2 separate regions of the Homo sapiens genome follow, and region 2 is linked to region 1. Evidence: fine-mapped expression QTL. A gene starts in region 1. The other region holds a variant in brackets. All regions are shown on one strand. Distances are from middle to middle.

Region 1 (14,390 bases):
ATAGGGTGCATGCTGGGTGACAGCAGGTGCATGGCATGAGGAACCTGAAAAAAAACCCACACTCATATGGAGTTCATCATTTGCTATGTCAAGCACCTATGATTTTATTTAAACTTCTCATAATTAATTAGTAGTATAAAGTGCTTAGTATAAATCAAAACATTCGGTTCAACTGTACATCTTAGGCACAGTCATCCTTTGCCACCTGTGGGGGGATTGGTTCTAGGATATCGAAATCTACAGATGCTCAAGTCTCTTACATAAAGTGGTGATTTGCATATAATCCACACACACCCTCCAGTATACTTAAATCATCTCTAGATTACTCATAATACCTAATACGACGTAAATGCTACGTAAATAGTCGTTAAGCTGTATTGTTTAGGGAATGACAAGAAAAAAAGACTTTGTGTTCAGTATAGACACAACCATCCATTTTTCCCTCCCAATATTTTCGATTCAACCAACCACAGATGCAGAATCCAGATACAGAGGGCCAACTGTAATTTCTCCTTCTATAGTTTTAGATTGTGCACAAATTCAATTCCAACTGCTACAGAAACTAAAAAGAGGAAGACAAAGTAGGGATAGAATTAAGGAAGACATGAGACTAGAGATGGATTTTAAATATGGTTCAGATTTTGTCAAGTCTAGATGGGATGGGGCAGATGGCATGTAGGAAACAGCAGGAAGGAAGACAGGACATGTGTGTGGAGCAGCGTGTGGCAGTCTAATGAGAACAGAGAGTGTCTAAGGGTACGGAGTGAAGAGCAGGCAGCAGGCAGGAATGGTTGAAGGCCATGTTGCAACAGTCCTTAAATACTAGGCTGCTGGGTCTTCTTAGCAGGAAAGATAACAGAGTCAAGGGCGGAGTCTCGCTCTGTTCGCCCAGGCTGGAGTGCAGTGGCACAATCTCAGCTCACTGCAAGCTCTGCCTCCTGGGTTCACGCCATTCTCCGGCCTCAGCCTCCCGAGTAGCTGGGACCACAGGCGCCCGCCACCCCGCCCGGCTAATTTTTTGTATTTTTAGTAGAGATGGGGTTTCACCGTGTTAGCCAGGATGGTCTCCATCTCCTGACCTCGTGATCTGCCAGCCTCGGCCTCCCAAAGTGCTGGGATTACAGGCGTGAGCCACAGTGCCTGGCTGAGATGGGGGTTTTTAGGAAGATTAGTCCGGCAGGAGGGAAAGAGGAGCAGGAGGAAGGGGGAGACATGTTAGGAGGTGGTTTCAGTGATTTTTTTTTTTTTGAGACAGAGTTTCGCTCTGTCACCTAGGCTGGAGTGTAGTGGCATGGTCTCGGCTCACTGCAACCTCCGCCTCCCAGGTTCAAGCAATTCTCCTGCCTCAGCCTCCCAAGTAGCTGGGATTCCAGTAGCACACCACCACACCCGGCTTATTTTTTTTAAGTATTTTTAGTAGAGACGGGATTTCACCAGGTTGGCCAGGATGGTCTTGAACTCCTGACCTCAAGTAATTCGCCTGCCTTGGCCTCTCAAAGTGCTGGGATTACAGGTGTGAGCCACTGTGCCCAGCCTCGATTTCAGTGATCTTAGACGTATTGAGGGGAGGTATGGGGCAGAAAGAACAGAAAGGAATGGATGCAAGAGATGTGTCAAAACTGAAAAGGACTTGCTTCTACCCAGGAATGAGCGACAGAGTAGTTCCAATGTCAAAATGCCTGACACCGCCATGAACAGAAACAGGAGGCGCTGCTGGGGATGAGGATTCGAAACCAGTGGAGTAAAGTTTTAAGCCTGTGGTATCACATCACTACTAGAAATATTTTGAAGCTCCAGGGTAGTAAAATTGCGAAAGCTCTTAGAACATTTTGCCCACAAACAAAGGCTTTACTAAAGTATATCCCCACAAACCATTACATATTAAATACGGGCTTTTTCAAAGGCTAGTCAAATCTAGACAAGGTATTTTCAAATACCACTCATTATCTGAGGCTGATCTTAGCAAAGCCCATATCCTAGAGAAGGGAGTGTAAATCTCAAGAAACAGCTAAATTTCGCTCAGATTACAGATACCATTAGACAGGTCTGGTTCCTAAGTGGCCAGCTGGGGCCATTACACAGGTTTGAATCTTAGAGCAGCTGCCCTCTCAGGTCCCCCACAGGCTGCCCACCACTCACAGCTCTTCAGACACACTAGACTCAGAAGGCATCTGAGCTCCCAGTAACACCCTCCTCAACACAGTGGATTAGAAACTCTGACAACCAACATGGAAATGTGACAAGGGCAGTTTGCCTCAGTGATTCTCAACCCTGGCTGCACGTTAGAATCACCCGGCACATCCTGGTCTCACCCCACAGACTAACTTGTCTGGGGTGGGACGGGGGCAGTGCTGTGTTCCTGAAAGCTCCCAGGTGACTCTAACGTTTGGCCAGGGTTCAGAGCCCCTGTCCAGAGACGATGGTTCATTTTTCCTTTACCTGGCTCCAGCCAAGACATGACATAACACTTACTGGTGCTGAATAATTTTGCTTGACTGGAACCAGAACACAATAAATTTGTCAAGCTCGTTCTTCCACATGCAGCAGGCCTGAGGGCTGCAGTGGCAGAAATGCCCCAAGGAATGGCACTCACATGTCGGGCAACCTGGAAAGAGAAACTTTTTATTAGAAAGTTTTCCTGGACTGGTGACTGAAGGCTGAAAGGGCATCGTGCCAACGGTGGTTTCAGCTGTCCCTGTTCCTGTGAACCAAATAGCAAACCCCAAACTCTAAGAGCATGGATTGGATCTGCATGTTCTTAACACTCCCTTCTGCTTCCTTCTCCTAGGAGACTGGAAGGTGGAGAGGAACTATAAGAACACAAAGACCGGCTGGGCGCGGTTGCTCACACCTGTAATCCCAGCACTTTGGGAGGCCAAGACGGGTTGATCACCAGGTCAGGAGTTCGAGACCAGCCTGGCCAAGATGGTGAAACTCCATCTCTACTAAAAACACAAAACTTAGCCAGGCGGCGGTGGCGGGCACCTGTAATTCCAGCTGCTTGGGAGGCTGAGGCAGGAGAATTGCTTGAACCCGGGAGGCAGAGGTTGCAGAGCCGAGATCGCGCCATTGCACTCTAACCTGGGCGACAACTCCGTCTCAAAAAAAAAAAAAAAAAAAATCAGAAACTCCATGCGCTTAAAGCAACACAGGGTTCAGAAGCCAGGGGACTTGTGCAGGCTTTTCCCAGCACTATCTGCTGAGTATGTTCTACCATTTCAAGGTTTTCCTTAGAAAAACAAGGCCCCTCCAGCACCAGCGACAAGTAAACAAGAAGAGCCAAATTCAGCCTCTGGGAGTCTGTTAAAGGCTCAAGGGACATGTTTACTCAACTTTTTTTTTTTTTTTTTGAAACAGAGTCTCGCTCTTTTACCCAGGCTAGAGTGCAGTGGCGCGATCTCGGCTCGCTGCAGTCTCGACCTCCTGGGCTCAAGTGATCCTCCCACCTTAGCCTCCCCAGGAGCACTGACCACCATGCCCGGCTATTTTTTTTTTTAGAGACAAGGTCTCACTATTATTGTCCAGGCTGGTCTCAAACTCCTGGGCTCAAGTGATCTGCCCGCCTCGGCCTCCCAAAGTGCTAGGATTACAGGCGTGAGCCACCGCACTCTGCCGGTTTGCTCAACTTTAATGTTCAAAATGACTCAGGAGAACGAAAGGGGCTGTGTTGAACCCCACCAGAGAAAGCCGTGTACCAAAAGAGCACGACGCATTGCCCACAGTTAAGCAGGAAACAGCAGCAGAAACACGCGGGAGTGGGATTGGGAGGGAAAGCCTTTGTGAGTTTTTTAGCACTTTGCGCGTTTTTATCCAGTATTTAAGGGGCTGTTCACAGCAACGCCTTGATGTAGGCATCATTCTTTCCATCTTAAGTACACAGTCTGAGAAAGGCGAAGGCGCTTGCCCAAGATCACAGGGTCGGTGGCAGAATCAGGGCCAGGACCTTAAGTGGAGATGGGCCTGGGGACCGGGGACGCCGAAAGAGGAGGGACTCGGGGAAGAGACCGCGAGGATGGAGTGGGGAAGGGCGGTTCTGCGCAGGCGCATGGAACCTTCCCGGAGGGAGGCCTCTGGGTCCGTTACCCGCGGAAACCCTCCAAGAAGGGCGAATGGCCCTCATGCCCAGAAGCGCGGGGTCCTGTCTGAGAAGCACGTTCCCGGAGCCACCAGTGTCTCCACGCCTGTCCCCAGCCGACAGCCACTCACCGACGCTCGGAGCAACCGTCCTACAGCAGCCGCCATCTTCAGTGCACTCGGGCGCCACGGGGCGGGCAGAGACGCAGGGGCGGGGCCTACGGGGTGGTGAGCGGGCCCTCTGCTGGTGGGGGGGCGGGGCCGGAGGAGCCACCGCCTCCCCGCCTCCTGGAGACCCTGAGGGAGAAATTCCCTTTAAGGCTGAATGCTTGGGCAAGTGACACGTGGTTTTCCTACTGTCGCCCCAACCTTAAAAGAACGAATCCAGGCGGGGCATTAGGTATTTGTTTCCATATTTCCCACTGTTTTGTTAACCTTGTGTGGATTACTGTGTCTAGTATTTCTGTGACAGGATCCCTTTCTTATTTCAGCCTCAGGTAGAGACTTCCGGCTTCTGTATGAAATGGAATTAATTACAAATGCAGTTTTAGTCCGTTAATAAGCTAAGTGGGCTAGACACATCAAGGCTTTGTTGGCCTGAAATCCGCTGGAATTGTGTGTGGTCTAACATTTGGCCTCTCTTCCCAAAATTGGGAAAACTGGGACAAATTTAAAATTTGGTTTTTGTCTATTAATGAAGCCAAGTGTTCAGTGGTGAGCATAGTACTTGAAGCAACCACATCAAACATAGATAAAAATCACACCGTGGCCTTACAGTAAGTGTGACAAATTGCAGTCTTGGAGCTGGTATTTTCTTTTCTCTTTTCTTTTCTTTTCTTTTTTTTTTTTTTTGAGACTGGGTCTTGCTCTGTCGCCCAGGCTGGAGTGCAGTGGCATGATCTTGGCTCACTGCAACCTCTGCCTCCCGGGTTCAAGCGATTCTCCTGCCTGAGCTTCATGAGTAATTGGGATTCCTGAGCAGCTGGGATTACAGCCGCCTGCCACCATGCCCAGTTAAGTTTTTGTATTTTAAGTAGAGATGGGGTTTCACCATGTTGGCCAGGCTGGTCTCAAACTCCTGACCTCAAGTGATCCGCCCACCTCGGCCTCCCAAAGTGCTGGGATGATAGGCATGAGCCACTGCACCCGGTCTGAGTTGGTATTTTCCAATCACTAGTCATTCAATTAGCAACTTCGTTTCTCAAGTCTTCTTATCACCAAATATCACTTACTATTTTCTTTAAATTGGCTTTCTTTTTTTTTTTTCCTTTTCTTTTTTGAGACAGAGTCTCACTCTGTCGTCCAGGCTAGAGTGCAGTGGCACAATCTCGGCTCACTGCAACCTCTACCTCCTTGGTTCGAGCGATTCTTCTGGCTCAGCCTCTCGAGTAGCTGGGATTACAGGCGTGCACCACTAAACCCGGCTAATTTTTTTAGTATTTTTAGTAGAGATGGGGTTTCACCATATTGGCTAGGCTGGTCTTGAACTCCTGACATCAGGTGATCCTCCCACCTTGGCCTCCCAAAGTGCTGGGATTACAGGCGTGAGCCACCACACCCAGCCCAGTATATTTTCTAAAATCATCTCAGGTACCACTAGGCGCCACCCTGGGTACCAGTCCCCAGATGTGGAAAGGACTGCCTTGGATGTGTGGGGACACACGTTTCGACTATTTCACCTCACACCTTCCTTGTGTTTGTTTAATTGGTTTTAATTATGTCTGTGTTTAGCAGATGATTGAAAAGGAGACAATCATTTTGGAGCTCAAAATCGTACTGTAGGCCGGGCGCAGTGGCTCACATCTGTAATCCCAGCACTTTGGGAAGCTGAGGTGAGTGGATCACCTGAGGTAAGGAGTTCAAGACCAGCCTGACCAACATGGTGAAACCCTTTCTCTACTAAAAATTGCAAAATTAGCTGGGCATGGTGGTGCATACCTGTAATCTCAGCCACTTGGGAGGCTGAGGCAGGAGAATCACTTTAACCTGGGAGGCAGAGGTTGCAGTGAGCCGAAATTGAACCAGTGCACTCCAGCCTCAGCAACAAGATTGAAACTCCGTCTCAAAAAAAAAAAAAAAAATACTGTAGTTCACAATGGAATATTATTTATCCATAAAAGGAATGAAATACTGATATATGCTACAACACAGATGAACTTTGAAAACACTAGCTAAGTGAAAGAAGCCAGACACAAAAGAACAAATAGTGTGTGTTTCCTTTTATATGAAACATCTAAAATAGGTAATTCCAAAGGGACAGAAAGCAAATCAGCAATTGTTAGGGACTGGGAGAAGCTGGCATGGGGACTGACTATTTATTTTTTATTTTATTTATTTATTTTTGAGACAGAGTCTCCCTCTGTTGCCCAGGATGGAGTACAGTGATGCAATCTCAGCTCACTGCAACCTCAGCTCACTGCAACCTCTGCCTCCCAGATTCAAGCAATCCTCCTGCCTCAGTCTCCCGAGTAGCTGGGACTACAGGTGTGACCACCATGCCCAGCTAATTTTTTTTTGTATTTTTTAGTAGAGACGGAGTTTCGCCATGTTGGCCAGGCTGATCTCGAACTCTTGACCTCAAGTGATCTGCCTGCCTTGGCCTCCCACAGCGCTGGGATTACAGGTGTGAGCCAGTGCGCCCAGCCGGAACTATTTAGTAGGTACAGGATTTTCTTTTTTTTTTTTTTTTAATTTTATTTTTATTGATCATTCTTGGGTGTTTCTCACAGAGAGGGATTTGGCAGGGTCATAGGACAATAGTGGAGGGAAGGTCAGCAGATAAACAAGTAAACAAAGGTCTCTGGTTTTCCTAGGCAGAGGACCCTGAGGCCTTCTGCAGTGTTTGTGTCCCTGGGTACTTGAGATTAGGGAGTGGTGATGACTCTTAACGAGCATGCTGCCTTCAAGCATCTGTTTAACAAAGCACATCTTGCACCGCCCTTAATCCATTTAACCCTGAGTGGACACAGCACATGTTTCAGAGAGCACAGGGTTGGGGGGTAAGGTCACAGATCAACAGGATCCCAAGGCAGAAGAATCTTTCTTAGTACAGAACAAAATGAAAATTCTCCCATGTGTACTTCTTTCCACACAGACACGGCAACCATCCGATTTCTCAATCTTTTCCCCACCTTTCCCCGCTTTCTATTCCACAAAACCACCATTGTCATCGTGGCCCGTTCTCAATGAGCTGTTGGGCACACCTCCCAGACGGGGTGGTGGCCGGGCAGAGGGGCTCCTCACTTCCCAGTAGGGGCAGCCGGGCAGAGGCGCCCCTCACCTCCCGGACGAGGCGGCTGGCTGGGCGGGGGGCTGACCCCCCCCACCTCCCTCCCGGACGGGGCGGCTGGCCGGGCGGGGGGCTGACCCCCCCCCACCTCCCTCCCGGACTGGGCGACTGGCCAGGTGGGGGGCTGACCCTCCCACCTCCCTCCCGGAAGGGGCGGCTGGCCGGGCAGAGGGGCTCCTCACTTCCCAGTAGGGGCGGCCGGGCAGAGGCGCCCCTCACCTCCCAGATGGGGCGGCTGGCCGGGCGGGGGGCTGACCCCCCACCTCCCTCCCGGACGGGGCAGCTGGCCGGGCGGGGGGGCTGAACCCCCCACCTCCCTCCCGGACGGAGCGGCTGGCCGGGCAGAGGGGCTCCTCACTTCCCAGTAGGGGCAGCTGGGCAGAGGCGCCCCTCACCTCCCGGACGGGGCGGCTGGCCGGGTGGGGGGCTGACCCCCCACCTCCCTCCCGGACAGGGCGGCTGCCGGGCGGAGACGCTCCTCACTTCTCAGACGGGGCGGCTGCCGGGCAGAGGGTCTCCTCACTTCTCAGACGGGGCGGTTGCCAGGCGGAGGGTCTCCTCCCTTCTCAGATGGGGTGGCTGGGCAGAGACGCTCCTCACCTCCCAGACGGGGTCGCGACCGGGCAGAGGCACTCCTCACATCCCAGACGGGGCGGTGGGGCAAAGGCACTCCCCACATCTCAGACGATGGGCGGCCGGGCAGAGACGCTCCTCACTTCCTAGATGGGATGGCGGCCGGGAAGAGGCGCTCCTCACTTCCTAGATGGGATGGCGGCCGGGCAGAGACGCTCCTCACTTTCCAGACTGGGCAGCCAGGCAGAGGGGCTCCTCACATCCCAGATGATGGGCGGCCAGGCAGAGACGCTCCTCACTTCCTAGACGGGGTGGCGGCCGGGCAGAGGCTGCACTCTGGGCACTTTGGGAGGCCAAGGCAGGCGGCTGGGAGGTGGAGGTTGTAGCGAGCCGAGATCACGCCACTGCACTCCAGCCTGGGCACCATTGAGCACTGAGTGAACCAGACACCGTCTGCAATCCCGGCACCTCCGGAGGCCGAGGCTGGCGGATCACTCGCGGTTAGGAGCTGGAGGCCAGCCCAGCCAACACAGCGAAACCCCATCTCCACCAAAAAAATACGAAAACCAGTCAGGCGTGGCGGCGCGCCTGCAATCGCAGGCACTCGGCAGGCTGAGGCAGGAGAATCAGGCAGGGAGGTTGCAGTGAGCCGAGATGGCAGCAGTACCGTCCAGCTTCGGCTCGGCATCAGAGGGAGACCGTGGGGAGAGGGAGAGTAGGGAGAGGGAGAGGGAGAGGGAAGTCCAGGATTTTCTTTTGTGGTGATGAAAATGTTTTGGAACTAGATAGAGGTGGGTATAACATTATGAATTAACTAAATACCCCGAATTGTAAACTTTAAAATAATTAATTTTATATTTGGTGAATTTCACCTCAATTAAAAAAAAAATTAGAAAAAGGCCAGGCATGGTGGCTCATGCCTGTAATTGCAGCGCTTTGGAAAGCCAAGGTAGGAGGATCACTTTGTGCCCAGGGGTTTGAGACCAGCCTGGGCAACATAGCAAAACCCTGTCTCAAAAAAAAAAAAAAAAAAAAAGAAAGAAAAAGAAAAAGGAAAAGAAAAAAAAAAGAGAGAGAGAAAATGTAGAAGAAATAGGGACTAAAAACATTATATACTGTAGTCTACTCCAGTGATTTAATAGATCTAAAAGGCTCAGAAAACTGAGCCTTTTGGAGATGGAGAGACCTTCCCAAAATCACATCACTGGCTAGAAGCAGAGAGGTAGGGCAAGAACCCAGAAATTCCATACCACTGACCACCCAGCGTGTGTGTCTGATGGAGTTCAGCCTCAGCACCTTTTCCCCAGCCAACTCGTGAGATTACGTCATCCACACCCTCATCGTCTCCTCTTCTCCCTCATACTACAGGGTTGTTTTTTTGGTAGAAACAAGGTCTCGCTATCTTGCCCAGGCTGGCCTTGAACTCCTGACCTCAAGTGATCCTCCAGCTCCCAAAGTGCTGGGATTACAGGTATGAGCCACTGTCACAACAGCCTGCAGTTTTAAAGTACTTAAGCTTCAGTAGCTCAAGTCAACAAAAGGGGAGGGGGGAGGGGGGCAAAGCCAAGCCAAGGGGTCGCCTTCTCTTCTCCTTATGCCCACAGCCCTTTGCCGCCCACCTCTCCCTTCCCCATGCTGGAGGGCCTCTTGCTCTCCTATTGTAGGCGTGTGTTTTTTAGTTCCTGCACACAGGCAGTTTGGCTCATAACTAAACTTCACTATAAAAATGTAAAGCATGGTGCAAGTCAAAGCGACAGAGCAGAGTGGAGTTCCCTTAGAATTTCACCTCACTCATCCTGGTTTCAGTTTTAAAGCTCAGATGCATTAGTTAGTGCCAGCTCATAGGCAGGGTTAGGCTTCAAGGTAACATTACTTGAGGGCCTCATAATTGGCTCTGAAAGCAATTCTTTTTTTTTTTTTTTTTTGAGACGGAGTTTTGCTCTTGTTGCCCAGGCTAAAGTGCAATGGTGCGATCTCGGCTCACTGCAACCTCTGCCTCCCAGGTTCAAGTGATTCTCCTACCTCAGCCTCCTGAGTAGCTGGGATTACAGGCATGCACCACCACGCCCAGCTAATTTTGTGTTTTTAGCGGAGATGGGGTTTTGCCATGTTGGTCAGGCTGGTCTCGAACTCCTGACCTCAGGTGATTGGCCCGCAGGTGATCGGCCCGCTTCGGCCTCCCAAAGTGCTGGGATTACAGGTGTGAGCCACCGTGCCTGGCTGCTTCAAGGTAACATTACTTTCCGTCTTCCATGTAGCCCCATTCACCTGCGGCTGCCTTCAGTTAGATTTCCTGCATGATTCCTGCCCATTTTAGCCTCTGAAGTAATCTGTTTCCTGTCCTATTAGGTACCAAATAGAGAGCCCTCTGGTATTGGATCAATTAACAATGTGATTTTTTTTTTTTAGAATCTTGCTGTGTTGCCCAGGCTGGAGTGCAGTGGTGCAATCTCGGCTCACTGCAACCTCTGCCTCCTGGGTTCAAGAGATTCTTCTGCCTCAGCCTCCTGAGTAGCTGGGATTACAGGTGCCCACAACCACAACTAGCTAATTTTTGTATTTTTAGTAGAGACCAGGTTTTGCCATGTTGGCCAGGCTGGTCTTGGACTCCGGACCTCAAGTGATCCTCTCGCCTCGGCCTCCCAAAGTGCTGGGATTACAGGCATGAGCCACCGTCCCTAGCCAACAATGTGATTTTAATCATTAATAAACATGTACTGGAGAGGATCACTTAGACCCTGCTGCCGAGGAACTGTGTGTGTATCCAAGGAATACTGATAAAATCATTAAAAAAAAAACCCAGTCCAAGATTCAGCATTTTAAGAGGCATGAAAGAGGCATAATGGTTGAGTGTGGACAGCTGAGATTGACACACCAGCTCTGCTAGCTGCAGGCACGTGGCCTTGGGCAAGTTACTTAGCACATTTTCCCATCTGTAAAATTGAAATGATGTTAGTGCTTACCCCAAGGGCTTTTGTGAGGAATAAATGAGTTCATATTTTAAAGGCATTAGCACAGTCAGCAGGCACATAGTGTTCGTTATATTAAATAAAAGAGAGGTGCAAGTGAAGTGCTATCATGGTTTAGAGAAAGGGGCCAAGAAGGGCTTCACAGAGAAATCATCTATCCTGCTGCTTGGGGAAGGTGAAGGGGAAGATGGCAGGTGGAAGTGACTAGTGACCTTTGTCCCTTTGGTTTACTGTTATCTTCAGTGACCACACTATGGGGCTACGCTCTGGGTTGAATGCAGTATCTCTATTCCGTCTGCACAACCCTATGACACAGGTGCTTTTTCGGTTTGTTTTTTGTTTTGTTTTGTTTTGTTTTGTTTTAGAGTCTTGCTCTGTCACTCAGGCTGAAGTGCAATGGCATGATCTCAGCTCACAGCAAACTCCACTCCTGGGTTCAAGTGATTCTCCTGCCTCAGCCTCCCAAGTAGCTGGGATTACAGGTGCACACCACCACACCTGGCTAATTTTTGTATTTTTAGTAGAGATGGGGTTTCATCATGTTGGCCAGGTTGGTCTCGAACTCCTGACCTCAAGTGATCCGCCTGCCTCGGCCTCCCCAGGTGTAGGGATTACAGGTGTGAGCCATCACACCCAGCCACAGGTACTGTTTTTAATTCATCATCCCCATTTCCAAGGTGAGGAGACTGATGCTTGGGAAGGTTTAGTAATTTGTCCAAAGTCCCACAACTGGAAAGGGAAGGAGCCAGGATTTAAACCTTGAAAGCTGACTGCAGAGCCCCCATTCCTTTTCATTTTTATTGTTTTTTGTTTGTTTGTTTGTTTTTGAGACAGGGTCTCTCTCTGTCATCCAGGCTGGAGTGCAATGGCACAACCATGGCTCACTGCAGCCTCAACCTCCTGGGCTCAAACAATCCTCCCACCTCAGCCTCCCAAGGAGCTGGGACCACAAGTGTGTATCACCAAGCCCAGCTAATTTTGTTAGTTTTTGTAGAGAAGGGTCTTCCTATGTTGTCTAGGTTGGTCTCAAACTCCTGGGCTCAAGCAGTCCTCCTGCCTTGGCCTCCCAAAATGTTGGGATTACCGGTGTGAGGCCAGAGCCCCAACTCTTTTTTTTTTTTTTTTTTTGAGATGGAGTCTCGCCCTGTCGCCCAGGCTGGAGTGCGGTGGCGCAATCTCAGCTCACTGCAAGCTCCGCCTCCCGGGTTCACGCCATTCTCCTGCCTCAGCCTCCCGAGTAGCTGGGACTACAGGCGCCCGCCACCACACCTGGCTAATTTTTTTGTATTTTTAGTAGAGATGGGGTTTCACCGTGTTAGCCAGGATGGTCTCCATCTCCTGACCTCGTGATCCACTCACCTTGGACTCCCAAAGTGCTGGTATTACAGGCGTGAGCCACCGTGCCTGGCCAAGTGCCCCAACTCTTAAAGCAATATTGTATGACCTCCTACAGTATTTGTTGGAGCATAATGTGCTTGATGGGACATAATAGGAGATGGTACTATAAATGTGGGCTGTGTGAGGACATGAAGGAGCACTGACCATCTGTCCTTTAGTGAAATATCTCAAGTACTCCACTCCCAGGCACCAGGCCTCACTGTGGATTCTGTCCATTGATGCGGTACGCTGTGCTCTTTTGCCTAAGCATTTCTAATAGGTTCCGCCCCTGCAATTGATGTTCACCACCTTGGGGCCCACTCTACTCTCAGCCTTCTTTTTTTTTTTCTGACGGAGTCTCACTCTGTCACCCAGGCTGGAGTGCAGTGGTACCATCTCGGCTCACTGCAACTTCTGTCTCCCAGGTTCAAGCAATTCTCCTGCTTCAGCCTCCTGCGTAGCTGGGATAACAGTGCCCGCCACCACGCCTGGCAAATTTTTTTGTATTTTTAGTAAAGACAGGGTTTTCAATGTGTTTCAGCACATGGCCAGGCTGGTCTTGAACTCTTGACTTCAAATGATCTGCCCGCCTTGGCCTCCCAAAGTGCTGGGATTACAGGTATGAGCCACTGTGTTCGGGCGACTCTCAGCCTTCCTTTCCTTCTCTGGGGTCTGTCTGTTCCTGTCTTCCTGCCAAGCTTGTGAAAGGAAGGCACCCACTTATTTGTGACAACGAAAAATGTTTCCAGATGTTGCCAAATGTCCCCTGGGGACAAGAGAACCCCCAGAGGAAACCACTGCTCTAATGGTAATGGCACAGGCTGTGGGGCCACCAGGACATGGGATCAAATTCTTGGTCTGTCACTTATGGTCTTGGAGGGCAGGTCATATGTCTCAGGCATCACAGAATCCCTCGTGACTAGACCAGTTAATGTTTCTATACCTCAGTTTCTGCAGGTGTGAAATGAGGGTAATGATGGCATCTACCGCTTCAGCCATGCACAGTGAGATAATGCCTGCAAAAGATGTAGTGGGGTGCTAGATACAGAGAAAGTGGTATAAATAAGTTATTCTTTTCCCCACAAGCAGACATACTACATTTTCAAACAACTGGCACAGGCTCTGAAGACATTTTATTTTTTCTCAAAGTGATGAAGTTCATTTTCCTTTCTTTCTTTCTTTTTTTTTTTTTTAAACAGAGTCTTGTTCTGTCGTCCAGGCTGGAATGCAGTGGCATGATCTCAGCTCACTGCAACCTCTGCCTCCCAAGTTCAAGCAATTCTTGTGCCTCAGTGTCTCGAGTAGCTAGGATTACAATCACGTGCCACCATGCCAGGTTTTTTTGTTTTGTTTTGTTTTGTTTTGTTTGTTTGTTTTAGTAGAGATGGGGTTTTACCATGTTGGCCAGGTCAACTCCTGACCTCAATTGATCTGCCGATCTCGGCCTCCCAAAGTGCTGGGATTACAGGCGTGAGCCACCATGCCCAGCCCTTTTCCTCCTTTCATTCAGGAGTGAGGGGTGAGGAATTTGTGCAAACGCTGATCCCCAAACAGGCTCAAATTAGGCTCTTCTGGAAGCCACAGGGACATGCAGGCAAGGAAAGAAAGGTACTGGGAATCTACCTGTTCAGGGCAGCTTAACCTCTTCTGCCTTGAGGCACCTGCTGGGTCTGGGCTGTGCTTTGACTCAGGAAACCTTGCCAGTTTTTTCTTTTATCTTATCTTTTTTTTTTTTTTTTGAGATGGAGTCTCACTCTGTCACCTAGGCTGGAGTACAGTGGCGCCATCTTGGCTCACTGCAACCTCCACCTCCCATGTTGAAGGGATTCTCCTGCCTCAGCCTCTCGAGCAACTGGAGTTACAGGCATGCGCCACCACACCCGGCTAATTTTTGTATTTTTAGTAGAGACGGGGTTTCACCATATTGGCCAGGCTAGTCTCAAACTCCTGACCTCGTGATCCACCTGCCTCTACCTCCCAAAATGCTGGGATTATAGGCATGAGCCACCACACCCAGCCCAGTTTTTTCTTTTAAAGCTAACTATGGGCAGGGCTCGGTGGCTCACACCTGTAATCCCAGCACTTTGGGAGGTCGAGACAGGTGGATC
Region 2 (16,302 bases), 47 kb before region 1:
CTAATTTACATTCCTACCAACAGTGTACGAGAGTTCTTTTTCTCTACATTCTTGCCATCGTTTGTTATTGCCTGTCTTTTTTGAGACAGAGTCTCCCTCTGTTGTCCAGGCCAGAGTGCAGTGGCATGCTCTCAGCTCACTGCAACCTCCACTTCCCTGGTTCAAGCAGTTCTCTTATCTCAGCCTCCTGAGTAGCTGGAACTGCAGGCACCCACCACCATGCCTGGCTAATTTTTGTATTTTTAGTAGAGACAGGGTTTCACCATATTGGTCAGGCTGGTCTCGAACTCCTGACCTCAGATGATCCACCTGCCTTGACCTCCCAAAGTTCTGGGATTACAGGCGTGAGCCACTGCGCCCAGCCGTCTGTATTTTTTTTTAGAGACAAAGTCTTGCTTTATTGCCTGGGCTTGTCTTGAATTCCTGGGCTCTGGGATTATAGGCATGAGCCACTGTGCCTGGCCATTTTCTTATGAAAATTTTTCTTTCTCTTTTTCTTTTCTTTTTTTTTTTTTTGAGACAGGGTCTTGCTCTGTCGCCCAGGCTGGAGTGCAGTGGCTCAGTCTCGGCTCATTGCAACCTCCACTTCCTGGGCTTAAGCCATCCTTCTACCCCAGCCTCCCAAGTAGCTGGGACTACAGGCACGTGCCACCATGCCTGGCTAATTTTTGTATTTTTTTTTTTGGTAGAGATAAGGTTTCACCATGTTGCCCTGGCTGGTCTCGAACTCTTGAGCTCAACAGTCCTCCCGCCTTGGCCTCCCAAAGTGCTGAGATTATAGGTGTGAGCTACTGTGCCTGGCCTAAACATTTTTAATGTTTTTTATTTCCCAGTGAAGTTATTAATTTATCTGGAATAATTTTTTGTGTAGTGTGTGAGTTTGGGATCTGACTGAACTTTTTTACCCTATGGATAACCACTTGGACCAGGACATTTATTGAATAATCTCTTTCTTTTTTCAGTAATGAGTAATATTACTTGTCATCTGTCACATTTTCTCATTCATGGGTGGGCCTGGGTCTGGCTCTCAGTAGTAGGTTTTGTTTTTGTTGTTTTTTAAATTATTTTGTTTTATCTTATTTTATTTTATTTTTTTGAGACAGAGTCTCGCTCTGTTGCCCAGGCTGGAGTGCAGTGGCGTGATCTTGGCTCACTGCAACTTCCATCTCCCAGGTTCAAGCAATTCTTGTGCCTCAGCCTCCCGAGTAACAGGGACTACAGGCATGTGCCACCATGCCCAGCTAATTTTTTTTTTTATTTTATTTTTAGTAGAGATGGGGTTTCGCCATGTTGCCCAGGCAGGCCTCGAACTCCTGAGCTCAAGCAATCCACCCGCCTCAGCCTCCCAAAGGGCTAGGATTACAGGCATGAGCCACTGCGCCTGGCCACCAGCTAATTTTTGTATTTTTAGTAGAGACAGGGTTTCATCATGTTGGCCAGGACAGTCTCAAACTCCTGGCCTCAAGTGATCCTCCCACCTCGGCTTTCCAAAGTGCTGGGATTACAGGCAGGAGCCACTGCCCCCACCTGTTATTTTTTAACTGTCCTTGCTTGGTAAAGTAAAACTCTAGGAATGATAAATTGGTCCTGTATTAGTGTGTTCTTGCACTGCTATAAAGAAATAACTGAAGGCCGGGTGGGATGGCTCATGCCTGTAATCCCAGCACTTTGGGAGGCTAAGGTGGGTGGATCACCTGAGGTCATGAGTTCAAGACCAGCCTGACCAATATGGTGAAACCCTGTCTTTACTAAACATACAAAACTTAGCCAGGTGTGGTGGCATATGCCTGTAGTCCCAGCTACTCAGAAGGCTGAGACAGGAAAATTGCTTGAACCCAGGAGGTGAAGGTTGCAGTAAGCCAAGATCGTGCCACTGCCCTCCAGCCTGGGCAACAGAGCAAGACTCTGTCTCAAAAACAAACAAAAAGGCCAGGCACAGTGGCTCACGCCTGTAATCCCAGCGCTTTGGAAGGCTGAGGCAGGCGGATCACGAGGTCAGGAGTTCGACACCAGTCTAGCCAATATGGTGAAACCCCGTCTCTACTCAAAATACAAAAATTAGCCAGGCGTGGTGGCGCACACCTGTAGTCCCAGCTACTCAGGAGGCTGGGGCAGGAGAATCTCTTGAACCTGGGAGGTGGAGGTTGCGGTGAGCCGAGATCATGCTACTGCACTCTGGCCTGGGTGACAGAGCGAGACTGTCTCAAAAAAAAAAAACAAAAAAACTGAGACTATAATTTATAAAGAAAAGAAGTTGAATTGGCTCACAGTTCTGCAGGCTGTACAGCAAGAATAGTGGCTTCTGCTTCTGTGGAGGCCTCAGGAAACTTACAATCATGGCAGAGGGTGAAGGGGAAGCAGGCACGTCTTACATGGCTGGAGCAGGAGAAAGGTGGGGGAAGGTGCCGTCCACTTTTAAACAACCAGATTTTGTGAGAACTCAATCACGAGAACCACACTAAGAGGATGGTGCTAAACCGCTCATAAGAAATCACCCCCATGATCCAGTCACCTCCGACCCGGCCCCACCTCCAACATTGAGGATTACAGTTCGACATGAGATTTGGGTGGGAACACAGATCCAAACCATATCAGTCTCTCCTCAAATAATTTTTTTTTTTGGTAATTGTATTGCTCTGTGAAATCAAAAAAATCTGGGAATCATTGTTCTAACACCAATCCCAGAGATCTGCTAATTCCTGAGTTGCCCTGAACCCTTAAAGATGATGCCATTTCCACTCTGAGAACCCAGGCATTTGCCATTGATTTCCTGAAGGCAAAGACCTGAAGGGGGAACATCAGTCAAGAGAGTCCTTGCTACCTTCTGCCACAGCTGTCATTCTTGACCCCAAGAGCAATGATTGGAAAGTAAATGCCCTACTTCAGTCTTGTCCTTGACACTGATGGATAATTTTGGAATATCTGGCGTTGTGTGAATATCTTCAGGCAACTGATAGTAATGTAGTCTTACTAACTGCCACAGGGTACAGCTAATGTTCCCGAATGAATAAAGCAGTGAAAGAGAGCAGTCGATGAGCTTTTAGACCCAATTCTTTTGATGGGTTCACCATATTTCTTCCTACTCCAGTAAGGTTGCTCATGTTTGTGATGCAGGTTACGTCGCTGGATTTGTAGACTTGGAGGTGAGCAACAGACCAGACCTCTATGATGTGTTTGTGAATCTGGCAGAGAGTGAGATTACCATTGCTCCCCTTGCAAAAGGTTTGTTCTCTGTTCTGTTCTTGATACAAGATATAAGCCAAACAGTTGTACATTTTTAGGCTGATTCTCTAAAACCAGTATGTGAGGGCTGGCTTACCAACTCTGCTGAAGATGGATATTTCCGTGTCTAGAACACAACATTTATTCCTATAAACATAGACATATTAGCAGAACATCCCGGGTGCTTATGCAGCAGAGTGTATATTAAGAAGTTAAATAGTCTGTTCATCTTGTTTCACTACTTTTGTGTTTAAACAAGGTGTATTATCTACTGCCACATAACAAATCACTTCAGAACTTAGCGGTTTATTTTCTTAATTTTGAAATGTTTCTGAGTCATACAGAACTCAGTGGTTTAAAACAACACATATTCCTTTTTCTTTTCTTCTTCTTTTTTTTTTTGGCAGAGTCTTGCTCTATTTCCCAGGCTGGAGTGCAGTGGCCTGATTTTGGCTCACTGCAGCCTATGCCTCCCGGGTTCAGGTGATTGTCATGTCTCAGCCTCCCGAGTAGTTGGGTTTACAGGCATGCACCACCATGCTCAGCTAATTTTTTTTTTTTTGAGATGGAGTCTTATGCCCAGGCTGGAGTGCAATGGCACGATCTTGGCTCACTGCAACCTCCGCCTCCCAGGTTCAAGTGATTCTCCTGCCTCAGCTTCCCGAGTAGCTGGGATTACAGGCACCCGCCACCGCACCCAGCTAATTTTGTATTTTTAGTTAGTGATGGGGTTTCACCATGTTGGTCAGCTGGTCTTGAACTCCTGACTTCATGATCTGCCTGTCTTGGCCTCTCAAAGTGCTGGGATTACTTACATATGTGAGCCACTGCGCCTGGCCTAATTTTTGTATTTTTACTTGAGACAGGGTTTCACCATGTCGGCCAGGCTGGTCTCGAATTCCTAGCCTCAAGTGATCCACTGGCCTCAGCCTCTCAAAGTGCTGGGGTTACAGGCGTGAGCCATCATGTTCTAAAACAACACATATTTATCTCACAGTTTTGGCGGATCAGGAATGACTTATGTAGAGGTAGTTTGGCTCAGGAAGTTTCAGTCACGATATCCCAGAGCCACAGTCATCTGAAGGCTCCACTGGGGCTGGAACATCCGCTTTCAATGTGCATGGCTGTTGGCAGGAGGCCTCAGTTCCTTCTGCCATGGGCCTCTCCATAGGGTTGCTTGAGTGTTCTTACAATATGACAGCTGGCTCCCCAGGAGTGAGTGACCCGAGAGAGAAAAGGAAGTCACAGTGCGTTTTATAATCTTGCCTTGATAGTCACCATTACTTCCTCCATATGCTATTTGTTAGAAGCAAATCACTAAGTTTAGTCAACACTTGAGAGAGGAATGTCTCCACCTCTTGAAGAAAGGAGTATCAAAAAATATGTAGGCGTTTATCACTACACAGGGTTAAATGTGACTCCAGTATGGAAAATCTTTTTGAAGCATGTCTTAGTAAGCATAAGGGAATGAAGCTGTTCTTAGAGCTAATGATCAGGAAAGGGTGTACTAGTGTTAGAGTGGCATTCTTAGACATTCTAAATTGTTCCAAATTAGGCCGGCCATGGTGGCTCACGCCTGTAATCCCAGCACTTTGGGAGGCCAAGGCGGGTGGATCACGAGGTCAGGAGATCGGGACCAGCCTGGCTAACACGGTGAAACCCCGTCTCTACCAAAAATACAAAAAATTAGCCGGGCGTGGTGGCAGGCGCCTCTAGTCCCAGCTACTCGGGAGGCTGAGGCAGGAGAATCAGTTGAACCCGGGAGGCAGAGCTTGCAGTGAGCCGAGATCGCGCCACTGCACTCCAGCCTGGGTGACAAAGCAAGACTCTGTCTCAAATAAATAAATAAATAAATAAATTGTCCCAAATTACAGCTACATAAAGTAGAAAAGATTGGCTTAAATGCGTGTTGAGCACTACTCAGGTAGTGGTTTTAGATGGGATTACTGATTAACAGCTTTGTTTTGTCACTTATCTTTCTCCTAAAAGTGGGGGCAGCTGAATGCTGACTCATTGGGAATTGTTAGATTCGATTATGTGAGGTTTTATTGAAAAATTCAAATTAATAGAACCATAACTGGCTTTCCTTTAATTCGTTTTAAAATTGCAAACATAATGCATGCTCATGATGAAAAATTCAAACTATGGGGTCAGATCTTTACGAAATAACTGCCTTTTGCAAAGCGAAAGTGAAAGAAAACTGGCTGTGGCTAGGGCCACTTAAGCAGCTGAAGCATTAGGACCAGAAAGGGTGGCCATCTTCCTGCTGCCCTGTGTTGCTCTGTGTCTATAAAAATGGGCTCATCCTAATCCGCACCAGTTGAATGGAGTCTGTCTCTTGAAGTGACAAACAAGTTTCTGTTAACCTCCTCAGTGCAGACAGTAGCAATGTATGTAACCAGGCTAACTTAGGTGGTTTCCTTTGCTCATTTCTAAGAATCTAAACGAATTGAGCGCCCAGCTGGCTTCTGCAGAACTGACAGGAAGCTCCTCTTTCACAATATTCCCGCCAAAAAGATACATTTCTTAACTGTAAAGAGCTGGACTAGAACGTCAGACTCTTGGCTTATAGTCATGACTTAGTTGTAGTCAGAATTGTTCATTATGCTTTGTCTGGGAAGAAAAATAAAAATTTTGGTCAGGTGGGTGTGAAGGGGAAATCTGGTTTGGTGTGATGTGTTTTTATGTTTGCCCAGAAGTATAAATCACGATTATATTATGCCTTTCCTCCCAGCATGTTGTCATATTTGTGTCTAGTGATAAAATGGACATGTGGGAGGTTATCAGCTGCTTTTTGAAAATTCCCTCAGTGTGGTCTTCCAAGTTTTCAGATAGATGGCATGATTATTTTTTATGTCGATTTCTAAATATTCACCTTCTTGATCTCACCAGAGGCCATGGCAATGGGCAAACTGCACAAAGAAATGGGTCAGCTAATTGTTCAGTCTGCAGAAGATCCAGAGAAATCAGAGAGCCACGTTATACAGGTAACTCCCTCACCTTCTGACTTACTGAAAGTCCTGACCCGGTGTCGCTGGGTGGTGTGCGGCAGAGCTGTGCACATAAGCAGAGTGGGGGGCTGTGGTAGAGGCCAGCGGGCAGGTGCTTAGAGAGGGTTTACAGACGGCCACAGTGATGATGGACAAGCAGGTGCAGGCTGGCCTGATCTAGTTAGTTACTGGGCTCGAGGGCAGGTATACACAGGGGCTGGTGCTGACACCGACCGCTGGCAATGAGAAATGTAACTACCAAGTGGTCTGGAAGGCTTTTCTGGGCCAGCCAGTGCATTCTTTCTTCCTAGGAGAATTTCCCTGGAGGAACAAATTATAAAGGGGAGGTTGTTGCTGAGCATGGGGAACTAGATTGTCAAAATTTTGCTTTGCTTGTCTCCAGGACAACAGAAATCATGCAGTCAGACTCCTGTCCCACTTAGTGACTGTTGCCACATGCCGCAGAGCCAGCTCCTTGCTGGTGTCTACCTGGCATGCTGACCAGCGTCCATGTGGCCCAGTGGGCACCTGCTCTGCCCTTGCCAAACTGGGATGGCAAATGGGTTTTATTTCTTGTGCTTTCCACGTGGTGGCCTGCAGCCCGCCCAGCTCCTTGCATTTGGCCTGTTCCCAGCTCCTTGCTCCTCTCCTGAAGGATACACTTCCAGCGTTGCCTTATCTAGATGCCTGACTCATAACCTGGGGCTGGAGGGCCCAGAAGGACTGTCTCCCATCTGCACCTGTCCTACCTGGGGGTACGGGGGCACCTCTGATATGCAGGCTTTACTCATTCGGCCCAACCTGATGCCTTCTTCATTTATCCATTCATTTACTCAGTGTTTCTTGAGCTCTGTTTGTTAGGCATTGCACTGGCAGTGGGGATGCAGTGGTGAGCAAATCCCTGCCCTCATGGAGTCTGTAATTTAGTGGAGTAGATGCACAGAAAATAATAAATGACAAGATAATTACAGCCCATGTTAGGTGCTGTGACAGAAGGGGTTGAGGTGGAGAATATTGGGGGATGGGTAGGCCAGATCTCTAAGGAGGTGACATGTCAGCGGAAAGATGAGAGGGGCCATTTCTCTGCAGTGCTGGTGGCCTGGCCAGCTGTGAGCAGGAAGAGTGGGCTGATCTTGCCCTGAGGACCTGAACACTGGAGACTCTGGGGCCGCTTCTTTCCTACCATGGGAATCCTCACTGCCCACCTACCCCCAACATTAGAGTAAAGACATATTCTTACAATATCAGCAACATATGTGAATCTGAGTTTTGCATTACTGTGTTGTTCACAGACTAAAAGTGCTACCTAGATGACTTAGTATGACGTATGAGACCTTGGGGAGGGCAAGTGAAAGTGCTGGGAATGCTGTAAGGGTTCAAAAATACATGAATGAATTAATGATGTCAGCAAACAAGGAAGAAGACGTGACTTTTTTTTCCCTTTTTTGAGTTTCACTGTCGCCCAGGGTGGAGTGCAGTGGTGCAATCTTGGCTCACTGCAACCTCCACCACGTGGGTTCAAACGATTCTCCTGCCTCAGCCTCCCACGTAGCAGGCACTGGGATTACAGGGGCCTGCCACCACACCTGACTAATCTTGCATTTTTAGTAGAGATGGGGTTTCACCACGCTGACCAGGCTGATCTTGAACTCCTGACCTCAAGTGCTCCGCCTACCTCAGCCTCCCAGAGTGCTGGGGATTACAGGCATGAGCCACCACGCCTGGCCAGAAGACATGATTTTTTTTTTTTTTTTTGGAGACAGAGTCTCGCTCTGTTGCCTAGG[C/T]GGGAGTGCAGTGGCGTGATCTTGGCTCACTGCAACCTCTGCCTCCCAGGTTCAAGCGATTCTCCTGCCTCAGCCTCCCGAGTAGCTGGGACCATAGGCATGCACCACCATGCCTGGCTAATTTTTTTGTATTTTTAGTAGAGGCAGGGTTTCACCATGTTGGTCAGGCTGGTCTTGAACTTCTGACCTCAAATGATCCACCTGCCTCGGCCTCCCAAAGTGCTGAGATTACAGGCGTGAGCCACCATGCCTGGCCAGAAGACATGATTTTAATGAGTGCTTTAGTGAGTCCTCAGCCACCCAAAAGGAATAAAGCCTGCGTGGCAGGTGCCGGGTTACTTATCCCAGGCAGAAGAGGACTTTTGGGAAGAGATTCCTTCAAAAAAACAATAGCAGCATTTCTCAAAAAGTTAAACATCAAGTTACCATATGATTTAGCAATGCTGTTTCTGGGTATATACCCAAAATAATTGAAAGCAGGGACTCGGCCAGGCCCGGTGGCTCATGCATGTAATCCCAGCACTTTGGGAGGCCGAGGCGGGCGGATCACCTGAGGTCAGGAGTTCAAGACCAGCCTGGCCAACATGGTGAAACCCATCTCTACTAAAAATACAAAAATTAGCCGGGTGTGGTGGTGGGCGCCTGTTAATCCCAGCGACTTGGGAAGCCGAGGCAGGAGAATCGCTTCAACCCGGGAGGCGGGGGTTGCAGCGAGCCGAGATTGTGCCATTGCACTCCAGCCTGGGCAACAAGAGCAAAACTGTCTCAAAAAAAAAAAAAAAAAAAAAAAAGAAAAAGAAAAGAAACGATACTGTAAAAATATAGCATTATCATCTTATGGGACTACCATTGTAAATGTGGTCCCTGGTTGACCAAAACGTCATTATGTGGTGCATGACTGTACTCGTATGGAAATATCCATAGCAGTGTTACTCACAGTAGCCAAAACGTGGCAGAAGCAACCCAGTGTCCTTCAGCAGATGAATGGGCAAGCAAAATGTAGTCTTTATATACAGTAGAATATTACTCAGCTTAAAAAGGAATGGAATGTTTTGAATGTGGCTTTTGTTGGGGGGGAGAAAAGGAATAGAATTCTGATACATGCTATAGCATGGATGAACCTTGAAACCATGCTAATGAAATAAGCCAGACACTAAAGGGTAAATGTTGTATGATTCCACTTATATGAGCTATCTAGAGCAGACAAATTCACAGAGTTAGACGGCAGAATAGAGGTTCCCAGGGGCTAAGCGAGGGGAAATGGGGTTATTGTGTAATGGGTAGAGTTTCTGTTTGTGATGGTGAAACGTGCTGGAAATAGTGGTGATGGTTGTGCAACGCTGCAAATGTACTTAATGCCACTGAATTATACACTCAGAAAATGACTAAAATTGTAAAAAAAAAAAAAAAAAAAAAAAAACCAAAACCACACACTATGATTTTTCTAAGTTAATTTTGTTTCATTTTTCCTAATTTTTTCTTTAAAAAGAATTATCAGGCCAGATGCAGTGGCTCAGATCTATAATCCCAGCAGTTTGGGAAGCCAAGGTGGGCAGATTGCTTGAGCCCAGGAGTTTGAGACCAGCCTGGGCAACATGGTGAAACCCCATCTCTACAAAAAGTATTTAAAAATTAGCTGGGTGTGGTGGCGCATGCCTGTAGTCCCAGCTACTCAGGAGGCTGAGGTGGGTAGATCACTTGAGCCTGGGAGGTCGAGGCTGCAGTGAGCCATGATTGAACCACTGCACTGCAACCTGGGTAACAGAGCGAGACCCTGTCTCGAAAACAACAACAAAAAAAGGAGTTATCTTTTTTGTTGTTCGTTTTTGAGACAGGGTTGCCCAGGCTGGAGTGCAGTGGTGCAATCATGGCTCACTGCATTCTCTAACTCCTGACTCAAGACATTCTCCTGCCACGGTCTCCCAAAGTGCTGGGATTACAGGCATGAGCCACCACGCCAAGCTCATTTTTCATAGTTTATAAACAGTCTGGAAAAAATAGGAAGAATTCTAGAGACTAAATATTCAAATTTCGGATACTAACATGTTGCATATATTTTCCTGTTCTATTAAAGGATATTGCTCTAAAAACAAGAGAAATCTTTACCAACCTAGCACCGTTTTCAGAAGTTTCGGCTGATGGAGAAAAGAGAGTCCTTAATTTGGAGGCGCTAAAGCAAAAACGATTTCCACCAGCAACAGAAAACTTCCTTTATCATCTAGCAGCAGCCGAACAAATGCTGAAAATCTGACTGTGTGACAGAACGTATCACTGATGACTGATAGAAAGCCCTCTTTCACTCTGATTACCCACTCACTACATGAAGTCCTGAAAATAACAGAGAAACTGTTATATCTTTTTAATGATTTATTTGCAAGTATTGAGATTTGACCTGAAAAACAATGAAACACATGAACACACTTCCGATTTTCTCCTCGCTGATTAGCTTCCTGCCTGCTGTCAGTGCTGGACGAAGTGCTATAACTACTTTATGTAACATTACAGAACAGCTAGAGGTCCTGGGGTAAGAGAAAAAAAGCACATCACAACAAATGTGAAAGCCTTCATTATTACACGTTCCAGTTTGTCTCGCTGTGTAGGCATAAGCTAATGGTTTATTTTCAGAAAGCTGCCTGAAACGTTGCTTTGTATTCTTCTAGGAAGAACTTTAATTCCTCCTGAGGAACTCTACTTTCTGAGCCAAACTGCTAATTTTCTGCGGAACTGTCTAGAAGATCATTCAAGAGACCCTGCAGTTGCACTTTCTCGTAAAAGTTAAAAAAAAAAAAAAAAAAAAAAGGTTTTTCCCGGCCTTTGAACATTTTGCCTATGAGAGTTTTGCATATATTTTATACTTGAGTAGACAACTTTAATAATCCATATTTATACTATCGCAGAAGTAAGCATTTGGCAAACGTTCAGCCATTAGCACTCATTTAACCCTGTTAGCAATATTCTTTTGAAAAAAGTGCCAGTCCTTATGTGATAAACTAAGAAGCCCATTGAATATAAAAGTGTGTAGGACTGAAACAGTGACCTTATATTATTGCTAAGGGAATATGAGATTAACTTCCTACAGGGGCCAAAACCAGAGAAAGGCTTCCAGCAACTTCGATGAAAGTAGTTTGGCCACATGTCAAGCCAATTGTTTGTACTATTTATGTACCTTTTTCATAACTGGAATTGCCAAATAAGCATGGAGATCTAAATGATGTACTTGTTAGTGTATTCATTCATATTGACTGTAAAGGATTATTTTTCACTCAGTACTGATGTCCTTGGAAATCTTACCTGGAAACATGTTTGCAAAAAACATTATTGGGTCTTTCATCTTTTTCTTGGTATTACATATTTGTTCAATAAAAATTAAACACCCTCCCTTTTTTTTGAGTGAGGGCAGGGAGTACCTGAAATAAGACAATGTTTACTAAGGCAAATAATTGAAAATTAAATCTGCACTTTATGGAAATGAGGAATATTAACATCTTTTTTCTCATTTTTTTGTATTACTATATTAGCTAATGATCAAAGTTGTTAAAATTATAAATTTATGATGCAGAAATAAAATTGATATATTTTGATATTCAACTACTTTTAGGTGGGTGACGAATTGTCCCCTCTTTCTCTAATACTGCTCATTCCAAAGAAAATGGGGAAAAAATACCTTTTTTCAACTGTGAGGGCGCTAGGGAATTATTAAAAGACCTGTCTGAAAGTTCAAGACGGCCAAGGGCGCGGTGGCTCATGCCTGTAATGCCAGCACTTTGGGAGGCCGAGGTGGGCGGATCACCTGAGATCAGGAGTTTGAGACTAGCCTGGCCAACGTGGTAAAACCCCATCTCTACTAAAAGTACAAAAATTAGCTGGGTGTGGTGGCACATGCCCGTAATCCCAGCTACTTGCTATTTGGGAGGCTGAGGCAGGAGAATTGCTCGAACCAGGGAGGCGGAGGTTGCAGTGAGCCGAGACTGCACCATTGCACTCCAGCCTGGACAAAAGAGCGAGACTTGGTTTCAAAAAAAAAAAAAAAAAAAAGTTCAAGCCGTCCCCCACACACCCTTTCCTCCCGCCCTAGCCCTCCTCCACTCGCCTTCCTGGAGCTGCCTCTGTAACTTCAGTCTCCTGTCCTTGGAAGATGCCTTCACATTTCTGTCATCTGTTAGCGGTTAAACCTCCACCTGCAGCTGTTGCCCATCTTGTTCTCTAACTTTAATTTTGGTTAGTGTCAGCCTATGGTCAAACTGAGCCATTTACTGATTTTGTCCTTTTAGGCTGTTATGAAACTTTCCTCACCAAATTTGGAAATGAACCATCATACTGGCCTTGGGGAAACAAAACCACAGATAAATTCTTTGGTAATGTGGGGTAGGGTGTGTTGGAAGCATTAGTCCAGTACTCAAATGTTGAGGTACCTACTCTGTGCCATGCCTGTGTTGTATTTTGAACTACCCTGATGGGCAGCAGCTCCCGCTCTCGCGGTGCTGCGCACAGTCCGCTTGGGGAATAGGGTCAGCAAACAGGCTGCTGTAGTGTGGCTAGTGCTAGGCGTGATGTGTGAAACAGAGTGGTATTGGAGCACATAGATGGGGACCCAGTTCAGTGCTGTCAATCCTGGAAGGCCTCCCAGAGGGAGTGATCAATGTCAAAGTCAGGCCTGAAGCATTAAGTAGACATCTACTCAGACCAGAGGAAACAGCTGTGTGAAGGCCCTGAGAAGAGACCACAGCCCATGTGAGGACCTGGAGGGTCTACAGGGAGGGGAGGGAGTGGCAGGATACGAGTATGGGAAAGGCTTGCTGTGGTGAGGAAGGTGGGCTTGATCTTGACGCACTGGGAAGCCATTTAAGGCTTTTCAGGCCCGGTGCGGTGCTCAGGCCTGTAATCCCAGCACTTAAAGAGGCCAAGGTGGGTGGATCGCGGGGACAGGAGATGACAGCCTGGCCAACATGGTGAAACCCCATCTCTACTTAAAAAAAGCAAAACAAAAATTAGCTGGACGTGGTGGCTGGTACATGCCTGTAGTCCCAGCTACTCAGGAGGCTGAGGCACAAGAATCACTTGAACCCAGGAGGTGGAGGTTGCAGTGAGCCAAGATCGCGCCACTGCACTCTACACTCCAGCCTGGGTGACAGAGTGAGACTCCGTCTCAAAAGAAAAAAAAACAGTTGTTCAGCAGGTGTGGTTTAGAAGAGCAGGCTGGAACGTGGACCGGAGGGAGTAGGCAGGAGATGGGCCAGGCAGTGCCAGCAGGGGATGCTGTTGGACTGCGCTGGGTGGTAGCAGTGGGCATATGTGGGTTCCAGACTCCATGTACTGGGCCCTGTCTACTGCATAGGCTGGTAAGGTGGGGAGAGGGCGCCTCCAGTGATCCTGTCTGGTGCACCTGGGGAGGTGGTGGTGTCAATTCCTGAGACTGGGAGGGAGAGCTGATCTCAGGTTCGGATGGGTTGAGTTTGAGGTGTCTGGGACATCCAAATGGCAAAGTACAGCCAAGTAAGCAGCTCAGTGACCAGCCTGAGTGCCCAGCAGTGTGGCAGTGCCACATTCAGGTGGGTCACGGATGAGAGAAATCTTAGCAGAACGGGAGGTGGGGTGGAGACAGTGAGGGCGGACAACTCTTTTAAAGTGTCTGGCTACAGCCAGGCGTGGTGACAGGCGCCTGTAGTCCCAGCCACTCAGGAGGCTGAGGCAGGTGGGTCCTCATTGAGCCCAGGAGTTCAAGGCTGCAGTGAGCTGATTGTGCCAGTGCACTCCAACCTGGGTGACAGCAAGATCCTGTCTCTAATGAGGCAGGTGACAAGCAGTTTATTTCTTTTTGAGACACAGTCGTTCTATTGCCTAGGCTGGAGTGCAATGGCATGACGTCAGCTCACTGCAACCTCCGCCACCAGGGTTCAAGTGATTCTCCTGCCTCAGCCTCCTGAGTGGCTTGGACTACAGGTGCGCAACACCACGCCTGGCTGATTTTTATATTTTTAGTAGACACGGGGTTTTACCATGTTGGCCAGGCTGGTCTCGAACTCCTGACCTCAGGTGATCCACTGACCTCAGGCGATCCACTGACCTCAGGCGATCCACTGGCCTCAGCCTCCCAAAGTGCTGGGATTACAGGCGTGAGCCACCGCGCCTGGCCGACAAGTAGTTTACATACTTCTGGGAAGGACCTGGCAGACAGAGGCTACAGAGCACAGCCCTGAGGAAGCAGAGAGAGGCCCAGAGCCTGGAGGACGCTGGCATTACACGGAGGAAGGATGGGTGTGGGTGCGGGTGTGGGGGGCTCCACTGCTGACCTGTTTCCTGGCGGAGGAGGCAGGGTCCTTTGCCAGAGAGGAGAAAGGAGGCACTGGGCGGAGGGCGGCAAAGGTTTTAAGTAGCTGTCTAGAATGGAGGACACTGAGTAAGGAAACAAGATTGCTTTTGGGGTTGGAGGGCGTAAACAGCGCCCCAGGGGTACGTGTTCCGCTTGAGACGGCCTATCCATTTAACACCTGTGTCCTGGGCACGGTGGACTCTGTGTTCTTTCTTCAAATCCTCAACTTGAGACAGGTTTATTAGTTAATTAGTGATTTCACAGTATCCTTTCGCAGGCCGATCCCCACTCCAACCGTTCCCTCAGCAACCCCAGGGGTGTCAGACGGGGCACCCTCCCACTGTCTTCTCCAGCCAGCCTTAAAAACCCCAGAGACGCCAGCCTGGGAACGATCTCAGTATGGAATCTGAAGTCGCCTTGTCAGCACAGACACCTCTGGGGTCCCCAGAAGACCTGTGGCAAAGTTCTCTAAACCGAACCTGGAGAGGGGAAGGTTTTCAAGCAGGAACCACATAAATTCACCTAAAACTCACGCCTACACCCCTCTGTGATAAAAGATTTCTGTTTCTTCTGTTGGAGACTGAATTTTCTCTTCAAGACTACAGTACTGTATCTGAAAAATAGTTAAATTCATAATGTTTCTATTAATAGTTTTTCTTGCCTTAGAAGCCAAGTTAAAAAAATCATTTTCTGAAAGCAACCATTTCACAGTCCATCTTTTTCAATAATGTCTAATCTATAGCAGAAAATGTAACCTATTTTTTTTTTTAATCACCCAAGCAGTAAAGAAACTTCTTAAACTTTTTTTTTTTTTTTTTTTTTGAGACAGAGTCTTGCTCTGTTGCGCAGGCTGGAGTGCAGTGGCACCATCTCAGGTCACTGCAACCTCCACCCTCCAAGTTCAAGTCATTCTCATGCCTCAGCCACCCGAGTAGCTGGGATTGGGATTACAGGCGCGCACCACCATCCTTGGCCCATTATTGTTATTTACTTATCTCTACATTTGTTTATAATTGAAAGTTTCCATTAAAAAGTTTTAAGATGGCTGGGCACAATGGCTCATGCCTGTAATCCCAACACTTAGGGAGGCTGAGGCAGGTAGATCACTTGAGGCCAGGAGTTCAAGACTAGCCCGGCTAACATGGTACAAAAAATACAAAAATTAGCTGGGTGTGGTGGCACACACCTGTAATCCCAGCTACTCCAGTGGCTGAGGCACGAGAATCACTTGAACCTGGGAGGTGGAGGTTACAGTGAGCCGAGATCAGGAGGATTGCTTGAGGTGGGGAGTTTGCAATCAGCCTGGGCAATATAGTGGGACCCTATCTCTACAAAAAATAAAAAATTAGCCAGGTGTGGTAGTACGTTCCTGTAGTCCCAGCTACTTGGGGGGCTGAGGTCAGAGGATCACTTGAGCCTGGGAGTCAAGGCTGCAGTAAGCCATGATCATACCACTGCCCTCCAGCCTGGGCAACAGAGTGAGAAACCCTGTCTCAAACACACAAACAAACAAAAAACAAATGTAGAAGGAATGTAATGAACTCACATGTGCTCACTCAGGAATCACTATTAACAATTTGCAGATCTCATTTCATCAAGCACCTCCCACACCCAGCAGTAGGATTTTTTTCCTTGAGTATTTTAAGGCAATTCTCATGTCATGTCACCTACAAGTTCCAAATGATAAAGACCTTATCATTATTGATATAGTACTTGATATAGTAATGACAGTAGTTACAAAACTACTATGTCATTGTCACACCTAACAAAATTAGTAATAACTCCTTATCTCATCTAAGCACCTCCATGCCCTCCTTGAGCCAACAGGATATTTTGTGTCTTTTTTTTTTTTTTTTTTAAATGAGATGGAGTCTCACTCTGTCACCCAGGCTGGAGTGCAGTGGCGCGACCTCGGCTCACTGCAAGCTCCGCCTCTGGGGTTCACGCCATTCTCCTGCCTCAACCTCCCGAGTAGCTGGGACTACAGGCACCCGCC

The links. PIP is the estimated chance that this variant, and not a neighbour inherited with it, causes the effect.
Region 2: its variant is the best candidate, but not a certain one, in a credible set for the expression of PRDX3 in whole blood (TOPMed, PIP 0.65).

Annotation. Positions count from the first base shown.
Region 1 is chr10:119,174,549-119,188,938 of GRCh38, forward strand. It overlaps PRDX3 (peroxiredoxin 3), which reads right to left and starts at 4,264. Exons shown (of 7, transcript NM_006793.5): 1 at 4,207-4,264; 2 at 2,473-2,605; 3 at 1-44. The coding sequence starts at 4,242. RefSeq lists enhancers at 3,143-3,787, 3,787-4,266, 8,325-9,070 and a silencer at 4,297-4,406.
Region 2 is chr10:119,126,401-119,142,702 of GRCh38, forward strand. It overlaps DENND10 (DENN domain containing 10), which reads left to right. Exons shown (of 9, transcript NM_207009.4): 7 at 3,115-3,222; 8 at 6,115-6,209; 9 at 10,071-11,584. The coding sequence ends at 10,247. It overlaps SFXN4 (sideroflexin 4), which reads right to left. Exons shown (of 14, transcript NM_213649.2): 14 at 14,367-14,919. The coding sequence ends at 14,842. Among named protein-coding and RNA genes, the nearest start is that of DENND10, 30 kb to the left of the region's middle. RefSeq lists an enhancer at 16,047-16,302. The variant C/T (reference allele first, on the strand shown) is at 7,997.